4 separate regions of the Homo sapiens genome follow, and all the other regions are reported to be linked to region 2. Evidence: microRNA targets listed by miRTarBase, many of them from high-throughput screens and not tested one by one. Region 2 holds a microRNA gene; each other region holds the end of a gene's coding sequence. Distances are from middle to middle.
Evidence for each region. Region 2 holds the annotated microRNA hsa-miR-625-3p (GACUAUAGAACUUUCCCCCUCA, at 2,969-2,990, opposite strand). A microRNA usually pairs through its seed, bases 2 to 8, with sites in the 3' UTR of a target mRNA and lowers its output. Matches are read on the target gene's strand: a 7mer-m8 pairs with bases 2 to 8, a 7mer-A1 pairs with bases 2 to 7 and ends in A, and an 8mer does both.

Region 1: miRTarBase lists KCNC4 as a target of hsa-miR-625-3p. Seed matches in the 3' UTR shown: 7mer-A1 at 6,122-6,128.
Region 3: the mRNA of BAG4 is a reported target of hsa-miR-625-3p. Seed matches in the 3' UTR shown: 7mer-A1 at 5,978-5,984.
Region 4: the mRNA of HIF1A is a reported target of hsa-miR-625-3p. Seed matches in the 3' UTR shown: 7mer-m8 at 1,186-1,192.

What each region holds. Positions count from the first base shown.
Region 1 is chr1:110,232,193-110,239,314 of GRCh38, reverse strand. KCNC4 (potassium voltage-gated channel subfamily C member 4) reads right to left here. Exons shown (of 4, transcript NM_001039574.3): 4 at 5,271-6,404. The coding sequence ends at 6,343. Among named protein-coding and RNA genes, the nearest start is that of KCNC4, 25 kb to the right of the region's middle. RefSeq lists a silencer at 2,771-2,880 and enhancers at 3,392-3,892, 3,893-4,393.
Region 2 is chr14:65,467,021-65,474,142 of GRCh38, reverse strand. MIR625 (microRNA 625) reads right to left here and starts at 3,041; the gene lies at 2,957-3,041. The region is part of intron 2 of FUT8 (fucosyltransferase 8); the gene reads right to left. It also overlaps the pseudogene RPL21P8.
Region 3 is chr8:38,209,866-38,216,987 of GRCh38, reverse strand. BAG4 (BAG cochaperone 4) reads right to left here. Exons shown (of 5, transcript NM_004874.4): 5 at 3,687-6,980. The coding sequence ends at 6,495. Among named protein-coding and RNA genes, the nearest start is that of DDHD2, 18 kb to the left of the region's middle. RefSeq lists a silencer at 5,983-6,277.
Region 4 is chr14:61,746,641-61,753,762 of GRCh38, forward strand. HIF1A (hypoxia inducible factor 1 subunit alpha) reads left to right here. Exons shown (of 15, transcript NM_001530.4): 15 at 294-1,618. The coding sequence ends at 445. It overlaps HIF1A-AS3 (HIF1A antisense RNA 3), which reads right to left and starts at 4,457. Exons shown (of 3, transcript NR_144368.1): 1 at 4,245-4,457. It overlaps HIF1A-AS2 (HIF1A antisense RNA 2), which reads right to left and starts at 2,449. Exons shown (of 1, transcript NR_045406.1): 1 at 399-2,449. RefSeq lists a silencer at 4,479-4,788.

The DNA.
Region 1 (7,122 bases), not on the chromosome of region 2:
GCAAGTGGAAAAACACTGAAGGTGAGAGAGCTGGGGATGTGTGGGAAACTGACAGGAAAGTGAGCTGCTGGTCTCAGGGGCTGAGAGCAGGGGCATGAATAGGTCTGCGGAGGCAGGAAGGCCATGAGGAGCAGCAGGGCATCACAGGCCCTCCTAAGGAGTCTGGATTGTACACGAAGTGGGAACCCAGCCATTGACAGGGTTCTAAGCAGGGGTGACATGATCTGATCCAGTTTCCATTTTAAGAAGCTCTCTCTCTGGTGACTGGGTGGAGACTGGTGGCAGAAGGGCAGATGGGACCCAGGGAGACCTGGGAGGAGGCTCCTGCAGAGCTAGAAATGTAGAACTTGGTAATAGGTTGGAATACGGGTGGGAGATATTTTTTATCTATTGGTCTTCTGGCCTCTCTCCCTGATTAGAATGTAAGTCCCATGAGGGCAGGGATCCTGTTGGTCTTGTTCACCATTGTTTCCCTGAGGACAGAGTTCACAGGTGTTTAATAAAGATTTAATGCACGAAAAATGAGTGAGTGAATTAAGGAATGAGAGGGTGGTTTTGACAACATCTATCTCAGCCTCAAGGTGAATGGTGGCAGCACGCTGAGGGGGACCAGGGAGGCAGAAGGGTGGGATCACAGCTCGGCATCAGGGAGCTGTGAAGACACCCAGGCACTGCCACGCAGGTGTGTCTGTGAGCAGGGAGTGCATGGGGAAGGGAGTGTCTGTTTGGGTCCCTATTGTACACCCAGGTTGTAGAGCAGTACCTGGGACAGAGATGCCACATATGTTTGCTGAATGAATGAACAAATGAATGAATGGAGCTGACGGGATTTCTGAACTGGAACTACACAAGTGGATGACACCAGTACCTGGAAGATGTTTAAGGCAATGGGAGGGGATGAGGTCACCCAGGAAAGAGTATGTGAGGAGAGAAAGGGAGCAAGCCCTAGCCCCCACCAGCAACCAGAGGTTGCTCATTTCAGAAGCAGAGGCCCTAACTCAGCCCCAAGGGGAAGCCTACATTTCTGTAGACTCGTATTTGATGGCTATAGCATATGCTTGCTAACCACTGCTCTTCTAGGGATCCCTGGAGAAGCAGGCAAGTAAGAGCGGGGAGTGGAGAAGCCCCCATAACCTGTGGGGAAAGAAAGGAGAGGCTTCCAGTGCCAACATCAGAAGGCCTCTGACCTCTTTGACTTGCAGCTGTAGCCGTTTGGCTCCCTCTCCTCACCCCCTAAAGCTGGGTCGGAGACAGCCTTGTCCCCAGAGTCCCCAGCGGCTCTTTAGCATGATGCTGCATTTTGAATGCGGTTACCACAGCCCCAAGTGACTGAGCCAGCTCACGTGCTACCTCTTGTGTGGGTACCAGTGTATGCACACACAGGGCTTGGAGCCAGGAACGGAAAGAAAGTGCTCACTGCAATAATGCCACAGGAGCCCCACGAGGGTGGGCACTGGATGGCATCACAACCCAGGCCCAGGACACTCCCCTCGCTCCAGACTAGAGGAGACACAGATGTCTCTCTGCCCTGCCCTATATCCCTGATGGGCTGGGAAGAGGCAGAGAAGAATTTAAGGAAAATCTTGCTAGGAAAGGAGTTCATCTGAACCCCATCTGAATACCTGTGTTCTGGACCTGCCTCCACCACTAACTAGCTGTGTGTGCCACGTGAGTCAGAAAGTCTTAGGATTGGAAACAGTCTTCTAATTCCACCTCCCACGCCGAGCAGAAATACTTCCCACGAACCCTGGTGCAGCACATGATCATCCACTGTGTCTCCAAACATTTTCAGGGAAGGGAACTTCACTACCCCGCAGGGAAACCCATTTTGATTTGGTAATTTTGTTAGAAAGTTTTTTTTTTTTCCAAAAAGCCTGGGAGGACCCACACCAGATGTTAACCATGTCACCTCTGGGGAGGAAAGTGGGACTGAGGAAGGGTGACAGGGGATTCCCTGTTGATTTGGTATGGGGATGGTTTCCAATACCTTGTATTAAATAAATGTTTGTTTGAGACAGGGTCTCGTTCTGTCGCCCAGGCTGGAGTGCAGTGGTATGATCATAGCTCACTGCAGCCTCAACCTCCTGGGCTCAAGAAATCCTCCCGAGAAGCTGGGGCTACAGGCACATGCCATCACACCTGGCTAATTTTTCTTTTTCTTTTTTTTTGTGTAGAGATGGGGTCTCACTATGTTATCCAGGCTGGTCTCAAACTTCTGGCCTCAAGCAATCCACTCTCCTCAGCTTCCCAAAGTGTTAGGATTACAGGCATGAGCCACCATGACTGGCAGTAATAAATTTATAATAGCAAGGGAAACAACAGAAAATAAGGTTCTTATATATACCTACTATGTACCCACAAAAATTACAAATCAAAAATTTCATTAAAAAAAGATTTTTTAAAATTTAAACCCAATCTGCCCTCCTAACATTTCCACCTATTATTTCCGGATCTGCTCTCTGCAATCAGAGAAGAATCTAAACCCACTTCCCCACAGGTACCCTTTAAACACCTGGTAGTTGGGATCAGGTTTCCAAGACTTCTCCAGCTTGAGCCACTCCTCATGTAACTTGGGTTCCAGAGCAGTCCTACCCCCACTTACCCACTTCTGTGCGTCAGAGAATAAAACTCCAGTGGGGTCGCAGAGGGAAGGAACCAAGCAGTCACTGAGCTGGGTGTTGCCTGCTGCTAATTAATGAATGAATCCCAAGAGGACATTCCTCCTCGCTTTATGTGTGTGTGGGGTGGGGTACATACACGTAAAAGGGAGAGTGAGTTTAATGATTCACTTCTCCAAGCCTTGGTTTCTTATCTGTAAAAGGGGAAAACAATACCTTTGCTATGAGAATCAATTGCAGTTAAGGAAATAACACTAAAAGCACAAACTCCTACACTGGAGGTTATGACTCACAAGCCCCACTCAGTTCAGAGAGTGGCTAAGCATTGGACCCACAGAGCCAGACTGAGTTTGAATCCCAGCTTTGCTACTTAATGGCTGTGTGACTTTGGAGAAATGACCTGACATTGTTGTGTTGGTTTTCTCCTCGTAAAACAAAGGTAAGGATAACATCAATCTTGGAATGCATCTTTATAAGCATGAAATGTACTGCCCAGCACTCAATAAATGTTCGCTGTTAGGTATAATCATCCCCTCTTATTCCTTCACAAGGAGATAAGGACTAAGGACTTCAGTGAAATGAGGCTGATTCACTGAAAAGTGAGGTCATCAAACCAAACTGGTCATCTGTTACTGGAGTGAGTTGCCCCAAAATACTCCCCTCTCCCTCTAGCAATGGTTATGTGCTAGGCACTGTGCGCGAGGCTTTACAGGCGCCGACTCATTTCTCCTCATGGCTCAATGAGAGAGACACGGCCTCAGGCAGATACTACATTTAAAAGATGAGGAAATAGACGTTCACAGAGGCTGAGTAACTTGCCCAGGGTCACACAACAAGGAAGTGATGGAGTCAGGACTCAAACCCAAGTCTGCCTGACTTCAAAAGTCTGTCTTATTCTTTTAAACAATGTCCTGTTCTTTTAACCAGCTCCCTACCTTGGGCTCGACTCCAGCTTTGGGGAACAGGAGGAAGCCAGAGCCCTTTCTTCCTTGACAGCACGGCCTGCTGTTTCTGTGAGGTGGGGAGGAGGGGCAGTCTGCTGCTTCTCTCGTCCACCCCTCCACCCTCCTGCACACTGCCCCCTCCTCTTCCAGCAGCCTGAAACGGTCACTGGGGACCCCAGTTGCCACCCCTTCAGTCCCCTCAGGACCACTCTGGCATCTAGTACCCCTGCTGCTGGCTGGGTTCTCAGCCCCTGACCATGAAATGGTTCCACATCGATCTACAGAAAAAACAGCCACTTTGGCCGTGGGCCCTGATGCGTAATATCATTATGGAGTCAGCAGCGCATCCCGTCCCATTATCGCCTGGCCAAGCTTTTCCAAGGCCAGCCTGGCTGCAAATGGCTTTCTCCTGTCTAGGGGGGCCACAGCCACTGTTTGCCCTCCACTACCGGAGGAGAAATTTTATCTTTAATTGACACTGGCTGCCTGCCACCCCCTTGCCTCGGCTGGCCCAGGCTCCAAGCCCGATCTTTCCTTACACTTCAGGAACAGGCTTCCCCTGGCTTCTTCCCTCTCCTCGGCCATTCCGTCCTCACCCTGCTGTTCTACACTGCCCAAGACAGCTCCCGGGTGTGTTCTTGTCCTTTCTTGGTGCAGCTGGACACGGAGATCTCAGAAGTCTGTGGAGAAAAGTCTGAGAGTGACAGGAACAGGGCAGGGAGGGAGCTGACACTGTGCCGCTACTATATGTCATATCACAGGTAGACACATGACACCAGGCCAGGCTCTTCACTCTGTCTCTGAAACAGGGGCCATCATTATTCCCTAACAAACAGGGAAACCATTTCGGTGAGTCACCCCCAAGTCACCCAGCTAGCAAGCAGCAAAGCAAGACTTTGAATTGAGGCCCCTATGGTCCTACACAGATGCCCAGAGTAAGAGTGAGGAGTAAGACAAGAATAAGGAGAGGCAAGCAGGCAACCAGACCCGCCAGAGCCTGGTGCAAGATGGAAACGCAGGGCCCCTGTTCAACCATTATTAATTTCATGATGGTGACAGCCAAGCATTAAACCCAGCATGGGGCCCTTCTGAGTGGCTGCACAGGTTGCACACCCATGAAGCTGGCCCTGCGTGTGCCCCTATGTGAACGTGAGAGGGATAACAACAGTGAGAGCCAAGGGCCACGTCTGACCATCACTCACCATCTCCCCGTCCTATCCAGGCCCAGGATGTGTTCACTCTCCATCCCTAAGTGGTCCCCAGTTGTGCCACCAGTCTCTAGTTGGCCTCAGTTCATCAGCCATCCAGCCAATAACTTTGGCGTCCCCAGGGTCTTGGCCCATTTAGAACTGGTACAATTGCAGGGAGGAGGGGAGGCCCCCTGCACAAACGGAATGCAGTGGAATTCCTTAAACAAAGAACAGTCTTTTCTTCCATGTTATGGCAGGGGCTTGGGGACAGCAGTGGATATTAGAACACTGTTTGGGTCTCGGGGTCCTGGGTTAGTCCTCTTTGTGTGGCTTTGGGCAGATGACTTGCCCTCTCTGAGCACTAGTCTCTCCCTGTAAAATGCAGGGGTCAGGCCACACTGATGATTCCTGCTGGAGTGGGGTTATGCTGAGTGTGTGCACTCCTCAGGTGTCAGGGGTGAGAGCCCCAGGAGGTCCCAATAGACACAGAGCCAGAAAGGAGAGGCAGAGGCAGGTGCTCACACAGCAGGAGCAGCAGGATGCTCCAGATGTCTTTATTGGGGCTCGAGCACAGCATGACAGTTGGAGGCATGCAGACAGGGCACAGGGCCCAGCCTGGGCATGCCCCAGACACACACGAGGGGACAGCTTTAGAAAAGGACTGACCAACACCAGGGAGGAGCAGGGAGGGAGGGCCAAGGGAGGGGCAGAGGCCAAGGCTGAAGGGGTCACCTGGCCTCTGCTATTGCACGCATCCTCTGGCCACTGACCAGGAAGTACAGTATTGCAACTGGTCTCCTCTTGCCCAAGGCTTCCCTTCTCGGACCCCCTGGGCCAGATGGGCAGACAGATCCTTTCCCTGCCTGTCTGCCCAGCAGCATCTTTGACAACAAACAGACAAAGGAGAGAGAACAAAATCAAATCTAAAAAAGACAAAATGCCCCCCTAAGTCAAGGACATAGATGGGGTGGAGGAAGTAGTGGAGGAGGCTGCAGAGGAGCCCCTGGAAGTCCCCCCACAACGAGGATGTGGGGTGGGAGGTAGAACCCCAATCTGGGGTGGGGTGCGGCTAGTGAAGCAGTGACCCTAGGGGGCAGTCTGGCCTTCAATAGACTTCACCAGGTTACTTGCTGACAGGGGAAACATCCCCAAGACAGGAGCCTGGGACTACCCAGCTGGACTGGCAATTCCCAGATGCACTTTTCTTGGGACATTCCACCCACACAGTCAGCAGAAACAACAGAAATCAGTGAAGGGGACGGGAAACTCTGGGTGGGGCAAGGGCTTAGGGAGACACAGCCTAACAAAGAAGACAAACCACCAATAGCACGTGCACTACACACAAGAGTATAATATGTATGAATATAGATACTATATGTGCATATATATCTCTTCGATGTACAATGGAACAGAACATCAGACCCAGATGGCTCTGGGCCCCGAGGGTCGCATGGGAGATTTTCCACCAGTCCTGTGCAAACAAGGATATCTGAGTCTTTCCCAGCGAAAAGATTCTTGTCTGGGTTCCAGAGTTTCCCTAAGCCTCTGGCTTTCTGTCTGTCTGCCTGTCTCTCTCACGTTGGTGCCGCTTTAAGAGAGGGTGAGGACTTCAGCCTGGGCATAGTTGGACGAGAGGGCGTCTTGGCAGGTCTCTGTGTTTAAAGAGCACAGGTGTGAGACACTGGGACGCACGCTTTCGGCTCAACATTGCCTTCTGGGGTTGGGGGGACAGGGAGTTCAGCAAAAGAAAGGGAGAAACAAAGAATGAGACGTTAGAAGGAAGCCAGCTGCTGACCCACAGGGTGTGGGCTAAGGAGTAGACCAGGAGCAGAGCTGGAAGGCATGAGGAACCCAGGGCTAAAAGGCCAGGAAGAGCATGGATGGGTCAGGGAATGGGGTGAACCCTTCACCCCTCTGCCAACCCAACTCTGGTGACTCAGGTGATGTTGTAGCTCATCGCCATACCTGTTCAGGTAACCACTAGCTCCAGGAACCACTAGCCTCTTAGGTCTTCAAAGCTCCAGTGCAGTGGAGAAAGGGACCATAGCTCTGCAGCCTTGCATGGAGGCAGTGGGGAAAGTTCCTGATGTGGCCTGTGGCTCACAGGCCATCACCCCAGCTGTTGCCTGACCAACTTGAGCTCTCCCCCAAGTAGCTCCATCTGCTGTCACCACCCTGGGATATTCCATTGTCCCAAGGAGCTGGTGAAGAAGGCTCCTGAGTATGATGCCATGTCGTGCCCAGCCCCCTTCCTCAATGTGGCAGGAACAGAGTCCCAGCAGTTGGAGGGCATGCAGCCTCAGGTGAATGCTGAAGGGGAAGGTCACGGAGGACGAATGTGCCTGTCTCAGGAGAGAAGGTCAGGAAATA
Region 2 (7,122 bases):
CGTCTCAGTCTCCAAAGTCTATTTTACTATTCTGTATGCCTTTGCGTACCCATGACTTAGCTCCCGCTTGTGAGAACATATGGTATTCAGTTTTGTATTCCTGAGTTACTTCACTTAGAATAATGGCCTACAGCTCCACCCAAATTGCTGCAAAAATGTTATTTCATTCTTCTTTATGGCTGAGTGGTATTACATGGTGTACATATACCTGTATAGAATAGAAATGCTTAAAACAATCCTCTAATAGCTTTTACAGATGAGCAAGTAGGGTCAGAATCATCAAATTCACCATCTCAGTGACACCAGAAGTTTCTAGAAGTCTCTAGTCATACTGATTTTCCACTTAAATTGCTGGACCCAATTCAGTTCTAAACATTAGTTTAGGGAGAAGTCAGAAGAATGCAGAGAAGTCTAATAATCCTGACAAAGATGCCAAATTAAGCCTACAAACATTAAATTGGTAAGGAAAAGTTCAATTTGTGAGTAAAATATTACAAGAATTAAACACAACATATTAAATTATTGGACTACAGTCAATTTACATCCTAAGTATGAGTGTCTAGAATACCAAGTTTGGCACATATAGGAGATCATTTTTATCACCTAGTCACAAAACTACAATTTTTGGGAATAAAACTGTGTAAACTGCCGTGGCAATGTAAGTCCAAAAGCATTGTTTTCTAATTATATAAGTAAGAAAAAATTTCTAATCCCGTTTTTCAAGATCCAATAAAACTTAATTAGTCCTGTGAAAGAGAACACAAAATGCTCCCCAAATGAAGGTGAGAGATAGAAAAGACAGACAAAAAGAGAAACAGAGAGAGAGACAGACTTCTGAAAACCCAAAGATATGGTACAAACATGGAAAAGCTAAATGTACAAAGATATTACAGCAATACGTACAATAAACTATCAGTCTGACCAACCTAACAGTACCTCACTCAATGAGAAAACATTGTTAGAAATGGGAAACATTTACACTGTTAACTGAAATAAGGCACAAATTTGAAAAGAAATTATTATTATAACTTTGTAAAAAAAATTGTGTATGAAAAAGGACTAAAAGGCACATATACCAACATGGTAACCACAGTTATGTTAAGATCATGGGACTGCATGTAATTCTTTTACATTCAATAATAATAATAAATAAAAGTTATAAATAAGTTGTCTAAATTATCTATAATGTGATCTTTTCAATGTAAAGTTTTCTAAAGAAAATAAAATTATATCTTACATTTAATTTACAACAATGTCTTTTTCTACTTCAATTTCTACTAAGATATTTGAGCACTAAATTCATTATATGAACTAAGTTTTTTACCATATCACAAAAAAAATAAGAATAAACATTACCTTATTCTGTGCTCATAAAAATAATTAGTGGGCAATCTACTAATTAAGAAATTCAATGTAAATGAGTCATCAAATTAATTGGTTCCATAAATCCAAAGTATCAGCATAGGGCTTTAATAACCATCCTCAGCATCATCAGTATACTTATCAGAAGTGCAATTAGTAAAGCCTGACATGACCCTACACCCAAAAAGGCTATAAAAATAAAGTTGTTTTTTTTTTTACAGTATAAGAATATAAAAATAAACCTTTGGCCATCAACATAGAAAACAAAGGCTGCTGTTGCCCTCAATCTATACTTGAAAACAGAATAGTAAATAGCCTGAGTCTATGCTATCACTTAGATGATTGTCCCTCCTGTTGAAATTTGATCTCAATGTTGGGGGTGGGGCCTAATGGGAGATGTTGTTGGGCATGGTGGGGAGGGGTCAGAACCCTCAAGAATAAATTAATGCTCTTCCTCAGGCATGCTTGAGGTCTCACTCTATTTGTTCCCCCAAGAGCTGGTTGTTAAAAAGAGCCAGGGCCCCTCCTCCCACCCTTTTCTCCTCTCTCATTTTGTGCACAAGCTGGCACCTCTTTGCCTTCTGCTATCAGTGGAAGTAGCCTAAGGCCCTCACTACAAGCCGATCCTGGTGCCATACTTCTTGTACAGCCTGCAGAACTGTGCGGTAAATCAAACTCTTTATAAATTACCTAGCCTCAGGTATTCCTACATAGCAACACAAAACAAGACAAGGCAGTCAATTCATCAATAATAAGAATCAGTCCTATGATCAACTTCCCTCTGGAGAAGTTTTTTAATCTTTCTTGCAAATTAGAATATATTATCCCCAAAATGTGCAGACCTGATGTCAGAAAGAGATAAAATTCTTAATGAACAATACTGCCAAATGAGATAAAGGATACTGTAATAAGTCTTTTGACTAGTTACAAAAGCATCAAAAATGGTCAAAAAATAACCTTAAGTACAGTTGTAAAGAGCTTGTAATTCATCACTCCCAACCTCACGACAAGAAAAAAAGCTGGGGGTAAAAAAAAAAAAACTGATAATCCAACTCTTCTTAGAGCCATCAGAGAATTGAGGTCAGAGGGCAAACTGCTGCTCTAAAACCTGGAGAGACAAGACAGGCAGATAGAGAATCACAGTGTGCAGGAAGCAGAAGTCCAGGAATACAAGCTCTCAACTGAAGCCAGCATCAGTAGGAACACTTGAAACAGTAATTGTGGACTAGCTTGAGAGTTAAAAACTGTAAGGGGACCAGTCTTACAGGGGTCCCCATACTTTCCTGAGTTTTACCTCCAGGAGCCCTACCAGGTTCTCATGGTAAAGATCTGAAAAAAAACCCCTCCTGCTTGCAGCAGGGGAAGAAGAAAAACCATTTTGAAATACGCCAGGAACTTTATTTCTCTTAAAAGGTATTCCAGAAAAGGAAACTATTTTACCAGAACCTAACCAACTGGCTTTTAGATTGCCTAACCTACTACGGTTTTACAGTGCCTAACCAACCGGAGGGAAGGGAAATACCCAACTCCAGCCCCATCTATCCTTTGACCGAGAAAAAGAGACAGTTACTCAACTCAGGCTCACAGTTGGTAGAGGGCAGAGGGATGAGGGGGAAAGTTCTATAGTCCTGAGATCTAATTACAGGACTATAGAACTTTCCCCCTCATCCCTCTACCCTTACCACCACATCAGTACAGCTCTTGTACAACACAGGATTACAACTTAAAAACCTGCAAGCCTCAGACCCCATTTAAGGATTCTTTACAAAAACCCAAAGACAACAGGGCAGATAAAAGCAAGGACAGTAGAAGAAATTTTAGCCTCTAATAGTGATGGCGGTGGCTTTCTGGTACATGGACGGCACAGGGAGAGGCGGACAGACCCCCTCCCTCAACAGCCCGCCGCCCTCTGTGCAGCACAGTCAAGCAGAGAGCAGACCGATGCAGAGCTGAGGCTGAGCTTCAGGGGCCTGAGGCAGGAAGTGGGAGCGGTGCCCACTTCAGGGACCAGCCAGTGACACAGCCACTGCGCCCACCCCACTGAGGGTGCCAGGTTCCTGGGCCTCAGGAGGAGGCTCTGTGCAGGGCTGCCCGGGGCTACATCCCCAGGGTCCACCCCACATCAGGCGACTGCTGAGCCTGCCACTCCCAACAGCCAGGCCGGACAGTTATCTGCTCTGCCTGGGCCACTGAAGCGCCAGGGCAACTGGGGTAGCTCCCGGCGATGTCACCCCTGCCCCGGATCCCAGCCCAGGTCCAGCAAGGATCTGGAGCCCCTGTCTCAGGCTGAAAGGGGGCGGAGCCAGGGCTGCATGCTCCACAGTGCCAGTGGGAGCCAGGAGCAGGCAGCAGCCCAAGCCACCCAAGCCTGGGTGGTAGACCCAGGCCTCCATGTGCTCTTGGGGACTGGAAACAGGCAGGAGCCCTGTCCCCCAACCCCATACAGCTGCAGCTACCCAAGTCAGGGTTGTGGACCCAGGCCTCCGTGTGCTCTTGGGGGCTCAGGAAGGCCCCCCTTGCCTTTGCAGGCTCGGAAATGCCTGTTCCCGCTGCCACTTCCCGCACCGGCTCCAATGTGGCAGGTTCTCAGAGTGGGGTTGGAGCCAAGCCTGGATATCATCACAGCCCAACAGGATATGCGCATGCTCAGGCCCTGCCGCCTAGGCCCCCTCTGAGGAAGCTGAGGTGGAGAGCTGCTCCATGCTGGCAGGCAGGTGCCCCTTGGCACAAGCAGCCTGGGAGCCATGGAAAGTGGCAGGAAGCAGACAGGCTCCTGGGTGGAAGGGGGCACGTCCCCAGATAGACCCCACCTTCAGGCCAGGGAGGGCCTGAACGTTGGGGACCGGGCTGCCAGTCCCGCAGACTGCAGTGGGGGCTTGTGGTGCCTTTTCCAGCCCACCCATGGCCACCGATGTACCAATTGACACACTTCCTCCCCACTGAGGTCCATAAAAGCCCCGAGATCAGCCAGAGCAGGGCAGAGGCCAGAGAGACAGCCAGATGACTAGCTGCAGAGAGGAGCTATCGTCTCTGCTGAGAGCTGGGAAGTCAATGGGGACCTGCCTGCAGAGAGGAGCCACTCACTCCAGGGCCTCCTCTCTGCTGAGAGCTGAACACTGGATGAGACAACCTGCCTATAGAGAGGGGCTGCCCTCTGCAGCTCTCCTCTGAGCTGTTCTAACACTCAGTAAAGCTTCTCTTTGTCTTGCTCACCCTCCACTTGTCTGCATACATAATTCTTCCTGGACACAGGACAAGAACTCGGGCAAAGGCGCCACTGGCCACAGAGGTTTCTAGACAGAAAAGCAACACCTTAAAGATCCCGTAACATTTGCCTCCGATACCACAGCCAGAACAAACACTAAACACAGCCTGACTTCTAAACAGATAAACATAAAACCTCACACTAAAGGCCTATTTACCTCAGTTCCTTTTACCTGATACATTCTGTCTGGCTATGAAAAAAAATTATGAGGCACTATAAAGGCAAAAAATACAATCTGAAGAAACAAAGCAAGCCTCGGAAACAGACTCGGATGTGGCAGAAATTTTTACCAGGAATTATCAAATTATCACCAGGAATTTTTTTTTATATATATGTTTTGAGACAGGGTCTCACTGTTACCCAGTCTGGAGTACAGTGGTGATTCACAGCGCACTGTAGCCTTGAACTCCTAGGCACAAACAATCTTCCTGCCACAGCTTCCCAAGCAGGTAGGACTACAGGTGCATGCCACCACCATGCCCAGCTAAGTCCTTTTTTCTAAGACCGGCCTGGGCAACATTGGAGACCCTGTTTCTACGATTTTTTTTTTAATCGCCAGGCATGGTGGCACACACCTGTAGTCCTGGCTACTTGAGAAGCTGAGGAGGGAGAATCACTTGAGCCTAGGAGTTCAAGACTGCAGCGAGTTATGATCACGCCACTACTGCACTCCAGCCAGGGTGACAGAGTGAGATCCTGTGGAAAGAAAGGAAGAGTAAAGAGAAGGAAAAAACAGTGAAGAGGGGAGGCGAGGAAGGGGAGTGTACAAATCAATAACACTGTAACAGGAAAGAATGTCTTTAGTAAGAAACACCAAACCTGGAAGTTCAGAGAACACCAAGCAAGATAAATACCAAAATATTTACATAGGCAAATGATAGTGAAGCTGCAGAAAATAAGACAAAGAGAAAACTAAATCAAAAGCAAAACTTTAGTTTTTTCCTTATTAACTTTAAGACCAATAAGATATCTCGAAAGAAGCAAGAGGTAAAGAAAAAAATCAACACACACAGAAAACATCTTATCCACAGAGAAATAAAGAATTAGATCAAACTTTCTCTTCAGAAACCATGCAAGCAAAAAGAGTGAAGTGAAATATTTAGTGTTAAAAAAAAAAAAAAAAAAATCCAACCTTTCGGCCGGAACCACCATCTTCCAGTAATTCGCCAAAAGGACGAACACAAAGGGAAAGAAGAGAGGCACCCGATATATGTTCTCTAGGCCTTTTAGTAAACATGGAGTTGTTCCTTTGGCCACATGTATGCGAATCTATAAGAAAGGTGATATTGTAGACATCAAGGGAATGGGTACTATTCAAAAAGGAATGCTCCGCGAGTGTTATCATGGCAAAACTGGAAGAGTCTGCAGTGTTACCCAACATGCTGTTGGCACTGTAAGCAAGTTGTAAACAAACACGTTACTCAGCATGCTGTTGGTATTGTAAACAACTTGTCAACAAACAAGTTAAGGGCAAGATTCTTGCCAAGAGAATTAATGTGCGTATTGAGCACATTCAGCACTCTAAGAGCCAAAATAGCTTCCTGAAACACGTAAAGGAAAATGATCGGAAAAAGAAAGAAGCCAAAGAGAAAGGTACCCGGGTTCTACTGAAGCACCAGCCTGCTCCATCCAGAGAAGCACACTTTGTGAGAACCAGTGGGAAGGAGCCTGAGCTGCTGGAACCTATTCCCTGTGAATTCATAGCATAACAGGTGTTAAAAAAAATAAAAGACCTCTAGACTGGCTGGGCACGGTGGCTCACACCTGTAATCCCAGCACTTTGGGAGGCTGAGGCGGGCAGACCATGAGGTCAGGAGTTCGAGACCAGCCTGGCCAACATAGTGAAACCCTCTCTACTAAAAATACAAAAAATTAGCTGGGCGTGGTGATGGGCGCCTCTAATTCCAGCTACTCAGGAGGCTGAGGCAGGAGGATCGCTTGAACCCAGGAGGTGGAGGTTGCAGTGAGCCAAGATCACACCACTGCACTCCAGCCCGGGCGACAGTGTGAGACTCTGTCTCAAAAATAAAAAAGAAAAGAAATACAAAAAATTAGCCAGGTGTGGTGGTGCGCACCTGTAGTCCCAGCTACTTAGGAGGCTGAGGCAGGAGAATCGCTTGAACCCGGGAGGCAGTGGTTGCAGTGAGCCAAGATCGTGCCACTGCACTCCAGCCTGAGTAACAGAATGAGACTCCATCTCAAAAAAATAAAATAAAATAAGACCTCTGGGCTGTTAAAAAAAATAAAATAAAATACCAAACTAGAATGCCTATAGAATCCCAGCAAAAGTATCCTCCAAAAGTGAAGAAATAAAGACTTTCTGAAATAAAAACTGGGAGAAATGAAACCCAATAAACATGACTTGCAAGAAATGTTAACAGAAGTTATTCAGAAAGAAGGAAAATTATATAGATCAGAAATATGGATTACAAAAAGAAAGGAAGAGTGTAGAGGAAAAAAATAAAGGTAAAACTAAATCTTTTGTTTTTCTGATC
Region 3 (7,122 bases), not on the chromosome of region 2:
ATGGGGTTTCACCATGTTAGCCAGGATGGTCTCGATCTCCTGACCTTGTGATCCTCCCGCCTCGGCCTCCCAAAGTGCTGGGATTACAGGCGTGAGCCATCACGCCCAGCCAATTTTTTTTTTTTTTTTTAATGATAGAAGAGGCTGGGCATGGTGGCTTATGCCTATAATCCCAGTACTTTGGGAGGTGGAGGTGGGTGGATCACTTGAGGTCAGGAGTTCAAGATCAGCCTAGCAAACAGGGTGAAACCACATCTCTACTAAAAATACAAAAAATTAGCCAGCGTAGTGGTGGGTCCCCATAGTCCCAGCTACTCGGGAGTCCAAGGCAGGAGAATTGCTTGAACCTGGGAGTTGGAGGTTGCAGTGAGCTGAGATCACACCACTGCACTCCAGCCTGGGTGACCGAGTGACAGTCTTTCTAAAAAAAAAACCAAAAAAAAAGATGGAAGAAATGTAAGACACAATGTTTTAGAAGTCAGAAGAAAAAGTTCGCCAGGCATGGTAGCTCATGCCTGTAATCTTAGCACTTTGGGAAGGCAAAGTGGGTGTATCGCTTGAGCTCAGGATTTCAAAACCAGCCTGGGCAACTTAGCAAAACCCTGTCTCTACAAAAAAATACAAAAAAAATTAGCCAGTTGTGACGGTGTGCACCTGTAACCCAGCTACTCAGGAGGCTGAGGCAGGATGATCAACTGAACCAGGAAGGCAGAGGTTGCAGTGAGCAGAGATTGTGCCCCTGAACTCCAGCCTGGATGACAGAATGAGACCCTGTCACACAGAAAATAAAAATAAAAAGTGATAAAGTTGTATAAATCTCCTACAAAGTACCACAAAAAGGCAAAACATTAAAAAAAAAACAAACAAACAGAAAACATAAGAAAATTAAAGAACCAGTCTATGAGGCCTACAGTCAAAACAGTAGTAATTCTAGAAAGTATTAACAGAGAAGACTGGGATGGAGGAAAGAGGGAAATTAACAAACAAACAAAAAATCAAAAAATTTCACAGGACTTAATGGTATGAGTTGCCAGAATGAAATGGCCCCAGCAAAACGGATAAAAATGGACCTAAACCAAAGCTATTCTTAGGAAATTTCAGAACAAATGGGGCCCCCCCAAAAATTCTATAAGCTTCTAGAGAAAAATATCAGGTTTTATACAAAGGATCTTGAATCAGAATGGCATATGCTTCTCAACAGCAATTCTGGAATCTACAAGACAATATAACAATGCCTTCAAAATCCTTAAGATAATCATTTCCTAGAATTCTATACCCAGCCAAACTATCAATCCATTGGCTAGGTGGAACAGACATTTTCAAATATGCAAGATCAAAATAAATTATTTCCCATGCACCCTTTTCCAGGAAGCACCTGGAGAATATGCTCCACCAAATGACGGAATAAACAAAAAGAGAAAGACATAGGATACAAAAAACAGAAAACCAAAAGAAGAGACAAAAAGAATCCACAGCATGACCCTATGTACTATGCCAGGAACATACTAGTTTTCCAGTCAGAAGGGTTCAGGATAGACTCTTCAGAAGTTTGAAATTGATAAAATATTTATATATATATATTATATATATTTATATTATATATATTTTAAATATATATTATATATTAAATATATATTACATATTTAATGTATATTTAATATTTTAAATATATATTTCTAATATATATTTATATGTTTTATATATATATATTTATTTATTTTTTTTTTTTTGAGACGGAATCTCACTGTTGCCCAGGCTGGAGTGCAGTGGCACGATCTCAGCTCACTGCAACCTCCACCTCCTGAGTTCAAGTGATTCTCCTGCCTCAGTCTCCCAAGTGGCTGGAATTACAGGCATGCGCCACCACACCCAGCTAATTTTTGTATTTTTAGTAGAGATGGGGTTTTGCCATATTGGCCAGGAGGATCTCCTGACCTCAAGTTGTCTACCCACCTCAGCCTCTCAAAGCAGTAGGATGACAGGTGTGAGCCACCGCGCCCAGCCAATATTAATAATTTTTAATCATTTTGTATTTATCTTAATTTTTTAATTTTTTTTTTAAATAGAGACGAGGTCTCACTATGTTGCCCAGGCTGGTCTTGAACTCCTGGGCTCAAGCAATCCTCCCGCCTTGGCCTTCCAAAGTGCTGGGCATACAGGCATTAGCCACCATGCCGGGCCTTGTCTGAGCATCTTGAGAGACTTAGACGACTGAGAGAAGGTCAAATCAGTCTTAGGTAGATAAGCAAACAAAACAAATATGACAGATGATTAATTCCAGGGAAAACAAGTTGTTAGGAAAGGAAAAGTAATCAGGTTACTATATAGCTAAACTCTCCTTAGCATTTACATAGTCAGGATAACGTACAATGAAACTACCAAATAAGTATATTGAGGACAGGTGTGGTAGCTCACATCTGTAATCCCAGCACTTGGGAAGCCAAGGAGGGAGGATCACTTGAGCCCAGCCAGGCATTTGAGACTAGCTTGGGTAACATGGCAAGACTCCATCTCTACAAAAAATTACAAAATTAGCCAGGTGCCATAATGCATGCCTCCCAGCTACTGGGGAGGCTGAGGCGGGAGGATCCCTTGGGCCCAGGAATTTCAGGCAGTAGTGAGCCGAGATCATGCCACTGCACTCCATCCTGGGTGACAGAGCAAGACTCTGTCTCAAAAAAAAAAAAAGTAAAGAAAACATATATATATATATATAGAGAGAGAGAGAGAGAGAGAGAGAGAGAGAGAGAGAGAAAGAGAGAGAGAGAGAAACCTGGAAACCTGGCCAGGCACAGTGGCTCACACCTGTAATTCCAGCACTTTGGGAGGCCAAGGTGGGCAGATCACCTGAGGTCAGGAGTTCGAGACCAGCCTGGCCAACATGGTGAAACCCCGCCTCTACTAAAAATACAAAAATTAGCTGGACGTGGTGGTACATGTCTGCAATCCCAGCTACTCAGGAGGCTGAGGCAGGAGAATGGCTTGAACCTGGGAAGTGGAGGTTGCAGTGAGCCGAGATCGCGCCATTGCACTCCCACCTGGGCGACAGAGCAAGACTCCGTCTCAAAAAAAACATAAAAACTCAGTTGAAGCTGGTTGAGGTGGTCCATGCCTGTAGTCGCAGCTACCCAGGAGGCTGAGGCAGAAGGATCACTTGAGCCCAGGAATTTAAGACCAGCATAGCAAGACTCTTGTCTCTAAAAACAAAATTTTTTGATTAACAAAAGAAAAACTCAGTTGAAAGTGGTTGCCTTTAGAGAAGGAGAAATGGGGGTGGGATCAGGAGAATGCTGCCTTTCATAGAACTGACTTTTTAAACTCGTAACTTCTACGAATTGAGGTAAACTCCTTACTTTTTTAAAAAAATAAGTAAAAAAAAGTAAAGTTGTAAAAGAAAAGCTCCATCAACTATCCATCCCCCAAAAACTTTTTTATGCCTATTTAATCTACATTCTTCAAAATTTTTTTAACCTGCCTAGCTTTAATGGTATTATTTACATTAACCAACTGAAAAACTGTTTTCAGAACCCCATTTTTAAAAGCATTTAAAAGAATTCTGCACCAACATGTGGAGACACATATAATCCAACCCCTGTATACTTCATTAGGGCTTATTTGTTTAAACAGTTTCATTGGCATTCATACTTGGAACAACAGAGGGTTATTATAAAAAAAAAAAAACATAGTTGTGTTTATCATGCCAGGACTGGGTAACTTTATTCAAGACTTTGACAAAATGATCCCCAAAGTAATATAAATGTAGACACTTTAAAAAGTCCAGATGTGAAATTTCAAGAAAACTTTGAATTCAGTCCAAAGTCAGTATTAAGTCAAAAGTTGAACCAATTCTACAAATCATAAATACTATTTTCCTTCTTAAGTTCATATATTTTCTGAGATAGATTACCAACTTAGTTTTCTTTGATATTGGTATTTGGAATAATTTTAACATGATTTAACATCTTTAAGTTCTAAATCTATACTTATCCTGAATATCTTATTATAGTTAAAAATATAAATCCAGAACTGACAACTCTTCCTTACAGAAGAATTCCAATAATAAATGTAGAAGGATTGAGAGAAATAGAAAATCACCATTAGAACACCACAGTAGTAACTGCCACAAGCAAGATCTGCCAATGGATAGTAAAATGAGCAAAAGTTTAAGCAGAAACGGGACATTTGCATAGTCTCCGGGTATCTCCAGCAAATATTCAATAATTACAAGGAAAACACAGTAAGTTTACAGTAGCGAATCCTAGCAGACACCACCTTAGCATAGTGATCAAGGTTAACAACACCAGAAATACATTACAACATCAGGTATCCCCTGTTATGATACACTGTCACAGACTGGAAGACAGGACGTAGGCATGATAGCTAAATGCAAGGCTGGGTCTTGGAACAGTAAAAGGACATTAGTGAAAAGACTAAAATCTCTACTTTTTAAACTTTCTACTTTAGTTAGTATTATATCAAGGTTAATTTCTTAATTTTGACAAATGTTCTATTGTTACGTAAGATGTTAACATAAGGGCAAGGTGGGTGCAGAGTATACAAGAACTCTACTACTTTTACAACTCTTCTGTAAGTCTAAAATTATCTCAAAAGCTTAAAAAATAACTGTTAGAAAACAAACATGTATGTGCATAACATGTGTACATATATATAAATCAAGACTTCATGGAAATTGGCATCTTGGGCACTCAGTCAGTAAAAGAATAGTGTTCTCTTCTGAATTATTCATTGTCTTACTGGTAGCTTAGCTTTAAGGTCCTCCCCCTTCTAGACTTTTAATTTCAAGTATAAATTTCTAATTTTCATAGAAAAGCCTTTTTTAAACATTCCTATATTAGGCCAAAAATAAAATCCTAGAATAAAATTATCACCATATTATCTTATAAAATCACTCATCCCAATCATAAGACCCAGCCAGTATTTTTACTACATTTCCTCTCCTCATCTGTTTGTATTGGTTTGGTTTGGTTTATGAGTGGGGACAGCTAATAGATTTAGTATTTACTCATAGGCCTGACAGTCTAGGGGAAAAAAAATTATCACTTGGGTATCTTATGAAGAAACAGCTATTTTTCCAAGAACCAATATTGTGTACTCACCTCAGACATAAAAAGTTATTTACCTAAGTCTCTTCTATCTAACAGCATAGAGTTACCCAAACAAGGCCAATAAAGACCCTTTCAATATCCTTTTCTTAAATTTGGCTCTAAAATGACTGTTAATAATGGTAATAAATGTCTTTTTATTAAACAGACAATTTTATCTTATGCAATTTAGGGAAATAAACATAAAATCTACCTTTAAATGAAGAAAATAATAATTTCCCACTCTAACTATGGCTGATTCATTCCCTGAGCATGAATCCCATTTTACCCTCATTGTTTTTAACTATAAACTGAGCTGAAATCTGCTCACAGGTGAAACTAGTATTTTAGATGGAGAATGATATTACCAAGTAATCATATTTATTACTTTTTGTAGTAATTATTTCTACTCACTGTGGCATTTAATGTTTCATCTGTAACTCTCTATCACAATGCCCTCTATAGAAGCAGCAATAGTGAAAACATAACTACACTTTGGGGAAAAAAAAAAAAAACAGGAAAAAACAGATAACTTTTAAGTGGATCTTTATCCAAATACAATAAAAAAGCAAAAAAGAAAAGTGTCCGTAAACATTTTCATTTTATGTCAATGCCATTTCCAAATTTACCTTCCACTACTACCATGAACAGCAGAAGTGGTAAAAAAAAAAAAAAAAAAAAAAGAAGAAAAAAACTCTAACCTAATGATCTATAGAAAAAGGGAGACAATTTACTCACTACACATTGCAGTATATTCAAGTGGTGAAAAGATATAAATTTTTTCAGAACTGCCATACTATCTGGCTGTCAATATAGTCTCTTGAATAATTATATTAAACATATTACTACAAAATGTACCAAGAAGTAGAGAATAATACTATATTTGTAAACTGCAAATAACAAAACAAAACAGAAGTCCAAGAAGGCTAAAGTCTAAGCTATAATTACACATGAAGTATATGTTGAAAGCAGTCACAATGTACAAAAATGTGACAAGATATCCAGATGTTTAAAAAAACACATCCTGTTTGTCTCAGATTATATCCAGTTTCATCTGGTAGGTTTCTGATAAGCCTGTTGTGTGAAGTGTGTTTCCCTCCTGCTGGTAAGAAGCAGCTTGTAGATATCCATAAATTTTTTAAGGAGTGAGTCTACTTGGCAATATTGGTAACTCCATAGTTTCCTATTACATTCATTCGTCTGAAAACTGAAAACAACTCATGACTAAAATATTCTTCCATTCCTTTGCCAGTTTTTCAAGTATAAAATCAAAGGAAAGCTGGAATGTATTGCTTCTTGTCATCAACAGGCATTTCAAAAAGAGGGTAATTAACCAAATCAAGTGTTCTTTGGTCAAGTTAGTAACAGGCTTCCACTTTGTTCTAAATCCTTTCATAATCCTTTTTTTTCTAATTTTTCCAGTATGGCCTGAATCTTACAAACAGCCTCTTTTCTGGCCTGCCGTACAGAGTCCTGGCCCCCAGTTTCAACTGAATCCAGTTCCAAAAGTTCCTTGGTTAGCATTTCTTCCAGAAGCCAGTATGCTTTGTCTGTCTTTTTTCCTACAAATTCTTCTACTTCTTGTTCAAGATACTGGACCTTCTCCAGCACATGTATGATTTTTTTAATACTCGGAGGAGTACTTTCATCTGAAGGTACACATTCTTCAGGAAGACTGCTACTTTGATCTTGATTGTTGGGATGGTCACTGGTGGCATTACCATACAGCTGAGGCTCAGCACTATACTGGACTTGGGAATCCAAAAGATCTGAATCATCATTGTTCACTGTCCCCGAGGATTCGTACTGATGGACACTGCAAGGAAAGTTGTGCCGGTTCATGCTTTGATCTGATTGGCTATAGGGGTATGAAGAATCCTTGGAGTGGGAGAGCAAAAAGAGGAAAAGAGCTGTTTTAATGGGAATGCATCAACATCAAATTTGTTAGCCCACATCTTTCACTTGACCAGAAAGGTACATGAAAAGATTCCCTAACAATAAAATTGGACCCCTCTCCTTA
Region 4 (7,122 bases), 3.7 Mb from region 2:
TGCCTCAGCCTGTGCTAGGATTACAGGCATCAGCTTTGATGCCCACCATATTTATGCCTTTTTCCAAATTGTTATTTCTTTGTGCCTTTATTGTATCCTGTAAACATTTCTGACACAGCAACAGTATCACTGGATTATACTTACTTTTTAACATAGTTGTGGTTTTGCCAGGTAAACTAAAAACCCTTCCAGAATTTTGCTTTATTTTCTATGATACCTAACACATTGTGGGTGTTTAATAAATATTCATTGACTAGATGAATGTATACTTAGGTATCTCTTTTGTTTTTCAGATTTAGCATGTAGACTGCTGGGGCAATCAATGGATGAAAGTGGATTACCACAGCTGACCAGTTATGATTGTGAAGTTAATGCTCCTATACAAGGCAGCAGAAACCTACTGCAGGGTGAAGAATTACTCAGAGCTTTGGATCAAGTTAACTGAGCTTTTTCTTAATTTCATTCCTTTTTTTGGACACTGGTGGCTCATTACCTAAAGCAGTCTATTTATATTTTCTACATCTAATTTTAGAAGCCTGGCTACAATACTGCACAAACTTGGTTAGTTCAATTTTGATCCCCTTTCTACTTAATTTACATTAATGCTCTTTTTTAGTATGTTCTTTAATGCTGGATCACAGACAGCTCATTTTCTCAGTTTTTTGGTATTTAAACCATTGCATTGCAGTAGCATCATTTTAAAAAATGCACCTTTTTATTTATTTATTTTTGGCTAGGGAGTTTATCCCTTTTTCGAATTATTTTTAAGAAGATGCCAATATAATTTTTGTAAGAAGGCAGTAACCTTTCATCATGATCATAGGCAGTTGAAAAATTTTTACACCTTTTTTTTCACATTTTACATAAATAATAATGCTTTGCCAGCAGTACGTGGTAGCCACAATTGCACAATATATTTTCTTAAAAAATACCAGCAGTTACTCATGGAATATATTCTGCGTTTATAAAACTAGTTTTTAAGAAGAAATTTTTTTTGGCCTATGAAATTGTTAAACCTGGAACATGACATTGTTAATCATATAATAATGATTCTTAAATGCTGTATGGTTTATTATTTAAATGGGTAAAGCCATTTACATAATATAGAAAGATATGCATATATCTAGAAGGTATGTGGCATTTATTTGGATAAAATTCTCAATTCAGAGAAATCATCTGATGTTTCTATAGTCACTTTGCCAGCTCAAAAGAAAACAATACCCTATGTAGTTGTGGAAGTTTATGCTAATATTGTGTAACTGATATTAAACCTAAATGTTCTGCCTACCCTGTTGGTATAAAGATATTTTGAGCAGACTGTAAACAAGAAAAAAAAAATCATGCATTCTTAGCAAAATTGCCTAGTATGTTAATTTGCTCAAAATACAATGTTTGATTTTATGCACTTTGTCGCTATTAACATCCTTTTTTTCATGTAGATTTCAATAATTGAGTAATTTTAGAAGCATTATTTTAGGAATATATAGTTGTCACAGTAAATATCTTGTTTTTTCTATGTACATTGTACAAATTTTTCATTCCTTTTGCTCTTTGTGGTTGGATCTAACACTAACTGTATTGTTTTGTTACATCAAATAAACATCTTCTGTGGACCAGGCCCCTTTGATCAGCTTTTATGTTCAAATATTAATAATATTTGCTTCAACACCTCCAACTCATAAAATTGTTTACCAACAATTTAAGCACTTATGAAAATTACATGGTACTGGTTATTTCTACATTTATCTTAGTGCCATCACCTTAATGTATGTTGAGTCCCTAAATGTCATGTTAAATAATAACAACCATAATATCCCATTGAAAAGAGTATGTTGTTAGAAAAGAAACATCATTTTTAAGTTTCTGAGCCTATTAAAATGCTCAAACACAAAATATTAGTATTTTTAAAATATGAATGGGATGAGTGAAGCAGTTCTCAGCATTATAGTCACAATGTTACAAAGGCTAGAGCTTCTCTGAAGATTTCTAATCTGTTCCCATTAACAGATTAATAAATTTAGACTTCAAATGAATAATTTGCCCAAGCTTTAAAAGTAATAGATGGCAGACCAAAAATGTAAGCTTAAGTTTCCTGACTCTAAAGTCAAACTTAGAACAAATTTGGTTTGTTTTTGTTTTAATGATACTGCGTTTTAAAACAAAGTAGCTTTATCCTTTTTCTCCTGTATTTTTCTTTTACAAAATAGCTGTATTTCTTTTATACTGATAATCTCATTTTTAAAAATCAGACAGTGTAGAAAGATATTTTTTAAAACAGAAAAATCACTATGAATCCCTGCACCTACAGGTACAGAAAATTATTTTTATGAACAAATTATGTAGGAAGTGCCAGAGCCTTAGGTCCTTTACCCTGAGGTATATATACTGAACAAAAGGAACTGAGCCACAGATCTCTTAGGTAGCTCTTTTTATCTTACAATGGAGGACAGTGATTACAATTATATGAAAATTTTGGAACAAAAGTTAATACTAAGATTCAGTGCAAAATTTGGGGGGGGGGGGGGCACAGGTATACTTAAGCACAAACACTGTGACCCAAAGTGCTTCAACATTTAGTTACAGATAGTAGTATACTAGAAGTGGTATTTTAGAATAAAGTGGTTGCTTAGTATTCACAGGTCACAAAACAAAAAATTATTCTTGTATAGCAAATTAGCTTCAGTTGAAAACTATTTGTAAAAGCAGATTATGTAATGACCAGGAGTTCAGGAAAATGACTTCTGAAAGCATTGAGAAGGGAAAGCCACGTTAAAGGACAGTACAGCTGGAAGGAAGCAAGTACTTACCCACTGCTCAGTCACTAAGACAACAAGCTCCTTGGAGTGCTTTAAGCTACGGAATAGCAGAACTGGCCCTTCCCAATTTTATGCACCGTCACAAATTTCTTCATAATGGTTTTGTCCAAGGCTTATAACCCAACCCTGGCAACTATAATCCTTACTTTATGAAACAGCTGTATTTCTTTTATACTCATAACCCAGAAAAATGAGAATGTATGTTCTGAGTATAAAAGAAATGTAGCTATTCCATAAAAATACAGGAGAAAAAGAATAAAGCTATTTTAATTTTTTTAATGCAGTATCATTAAAAAACAAACCAAGTTTGTTCTAAGTTTGACTTTAGAGTCAGGAGACTTAAGCTTACATTTCTGGTCTGCCATCTATTACTTTTAGAGCTTGGGTAAATCTTCATTTGAGATCTAAATGCTATATATAGTTCATTCATAGCAGTACCAGATAAGGGAGGAGTATATCTATACAGTATATAGTCTTGAAGAAGTGATCTAAGGCTCGGAGCTTTTGAGGTGGCCATGAGTGACTCCAAAGTCCATGGAGCTAACCACCCTGCAGTGCTAGCCAATCCAGTTGAACATACCCTTTTCTCCATTGTTAACTGTTTGTTTAAATAGCAAACAGAAGGCGGCAATGGAGGTGTGGAAAACTGAGGATCCGATGTCACTTGAAAGTAATGAGATCACATAACATTGAGGGAATGTCCTAAGAGGAGTGGCAGGGCATAAATAGAAATGAATAAAAGTGTTTTCAAGTGCCATTTAGTGGGTTCTGAATTTGAACTAGAGATTGAGATATCCAGTTATGGAGACATTAACTCAAATTAACAAGGTAGTGAATGGGAAAGCACAAACTATAAAAGACTGTATCAATGTATGGTATTTTTTCCCAGAGCTGTTTTGACTTAATGGCATAATAGATATGTTTAAGTTTTTATAACCTCACGATTATCATTCCAAATCTTATTTTCCTCCTAGAAGCCTCTGTACAGAAAAGATGAACTTAAAATTACTCGCTTTGTAGAAACTTAATCTAAAAGTTCAAAATGTTTAAGTAGCAATACCTAAAACAAGTTGCAGAGTAAAGAATCCTCTTTTTTTCTTTTTTTCAACATTAAGATTTGGTTAAATAAAACCTTTGCAAACGTGTTGCCAGCTGGAACCAACAAAAATGTAAAGAAAAAAACTTTTACTTTTTTTTTTTTAAGTTTTCCACTAACCACTTTGCTCACATTTCGTTCCTTTAAATAGAGATGAACCTGTCGTCCCAGATTATTTTACAGAGAAATAGTGAAATTAGTGGAATTCGATACAAAAATAGTCTCCCTGTAGGATAAAAGTTATACTTTACCATAAACCTTCCTATGAACGCCTTCTGGAGCTTTGATGTGTTCACACCTTTCAGAGGTTTGGACATAATTTTTATTCTTACCTGTAGTGGATAGTTTTTCCAAGACGCTGCCCAGACACCCGATCTCCGTGTACTATTGAATTTCGTTTATTCCCTTGTCTTGGCTCCATTCTGGGACGGAGAGGAAAGACAGGTGCCTGAGAGCGGCAGCGGTCAGAGCCCCGCGGGGAGAATACCAAGCATGCGGAAGGTACCCGGCACCCTTCTGTTCCTGGTGTGGCTGGCGCTACATGATGAGGATGCGAAACCCAAGCCAACCCGAGAAACTTCCCGAGCCCCGCCCGGCGCGCGGCAGGCCACGCCTCAGTACGTGCTCGGGCGCAGCACCGCAGTCCCGGGCCCCGCCCGCGGCCCCGGCCGTGGGCTCCAGGGCTCCAGCCGCGCAAGGCGACTTTCGTGTACGCTGTGGGGTGGCTGCTGCCCGCTGCGCGTACGTGTGGGAGCGCATGCGGGAGGCCCTGGCCGCTCCTGGCCTGCGAACGGGCGGCGCCAGGCGTGGGGGGTCAGCCCTGGGCTTTGTCTTCTGGGACTTGTCAAAGTCGGAAGCCTAGTGCTTCCCCAAACTTTGTTTTTTAGATGGGGGGGGCGTGGGCGAATGGGACTTGATGTATTGCGGAAGAGCTGCCTCCCGAAATTCCCAAGCAAATGCTTTGGGGTATGAAGCTTTTTCTTTGTAGAATAGAAAAAGTTGAGTTCTAACAGATTGGATAGTGGTTAGTTATATAATACTTTTTTAAAAAAAATTAGACATCTAATCAAAAATAGAGGAGTTCTATGTTTATTTAAATATATTCCTCTTAAGGCACTCAAAGAGTTCGTTTATTTTAAATAAAGCACGTTGAGATATGCCTAGTTAAGGATCTCGAAACTTTATCCCACTTGGTGCCGTTTTTATTTTGGTGGTTTTGTGGGGGGTGGTTTTTTGGGCTTTTTACTGTTTTGATTTTATTGTATGCCAGCTATTGAGAATCCTTTGGGAGAAGATAATCTTGTTGGACAGAAGGGAGATGAGTGTATAGAGTACGGAAAAAGCTTGGAGCCTTAATCTCTGTAATAATTGGTATGTTCAGATTGCACAATGTATTATAAAGTACAAAGCCAGGTATTTAGAATAAATAACTTCGCCTCTGCATATCCACAGCTCACTACATTTTACATTTTATTTTCATTTGTTTCCTTCAGGAAAATTCATTGTTTGTGGTTTCCTCAAATAGCATTTTATAGAAAGCAAAGGTACACTTTTCAAAAGTAGTTGAGGTGTTTTAGATACTTTTTTACTAATAAAAACTGATCTGTAGCCTCACTTATCATATGTGTGTGTGTTCGTGTCTAATCAGGGAGGTGCCCTTTAATGAGAGTGCCATAATTCTTTTGGTCCTACGGATGCATAATCATTATAGATGGACAATTTTCCATAGAAGAGAGCAGGCTGGTGGGGCTGTAATATTTATCACAAAGGGTCATGCTTTTTACAAAGTAGAGAAACACTGTGTAAAGTCAGACAAGTAGATTAGGATTCTGTGAAGTAAAATCTAATTTTAAAGATCTTTGAAATATTAACATTAAAAACCCTGTTTTATGTAGAGATCCTTTCCAAATATGACTGGATAATATTATTTCCTCTGAAATGGATTTTTAAAAACGGTTCTACATACAACTGCTATGACAAAATCTTTCATAGGCGTACAGAAACAAGCTGGACAGAAGTCATAAACTGTTGCCTGACTCCCTAATCTGCTGGTAGAATATTAAAGCAAAAACCTAAAGAAAGTGAGCTACAAATACGGAAAATTAGAAAGGAGCCAATACAGCCTGGGAGGTACTTTGCATCAGCCTTTGCCTCTTACTTAGAGTTTTCCCAACTGCAAATATTTATCATTCCTGTGAATTTCCTTATCACTTCCTCTTTAGCTTTCTCACTTCTCTTTTTTTAACCTTATAATTTTTGCATGTCTTATCCCTCGTACTAAACTCTTAGTTTCTTCAGAGCATGGTTCCCATCTGACTCATCTTTGATCCGTCCTAAAGCCTTCCACTCTGCATGCGCAAAAACAACTCACACATGATCCAAGGTGGAGAGGATTTCAGGTGTGTCAGAGACTAGAGAAGAATTATGATCAGAGGAACAAAGTGGGGAACAGAACCATTTTCTAGCTCTTCCAGGGAGATCCATTCAATCAATGAGTAGTGTTGAGTGAGTACAAGATATTATTCTAAGACCTCTAGGTGATATAAATATTCTAGAATATGGTGCCTGCTATCAAGGGTGCAGTTAATTCCCATTCTGTGAGGTATTCACAAATTCAACTGTACTTGTGCAAACACAGTTGAAATCTAAATAGAGTTTTTATTGGCCCTTTGAGATGTTCCAAGCCACCGTTACCTTTCCTTTTCATGGACTGTCTCCAGCTTGATAATCACCGTCTCCAGCCCAGGGTGCTCCCCGCAGGCGCCCCAAATTTGGCATGTCAAAAATTAACTCCTTATTTGTCTTCCAAATGGCTTCTCCTCTTGCATCTCCTGCTCAAGGAATGGCACCATTCAGTCTGAAACCAGAACCCTAGAGGTCACTTGTCACTACTCCCTTATCTACCATATATAGTCTGACACAGTCCTTTGCTTTTCTTAAATTATAATTATGGAAACTTGAACATGTACAAAAGTAAAGAGACTATAATGATGCCAAAGTGTCTTTGCAATTTGTGTTCTCTGGGAAGTAGACTCTGAGATGGAGATTTCAGGTGATTTATTGGGGAGTGCTTTTCAACACATGTGGAAGAGAAAGAACAGAAGTAGGCAGAGGGAGAAACAGCTGAGGAGCAGTCCCAACAAAGCCTTTAGCAGCCACATGGGGAGCTCTGGAACTGCAATAGCCCTTGAGACTTGTCCCAAGTTACAG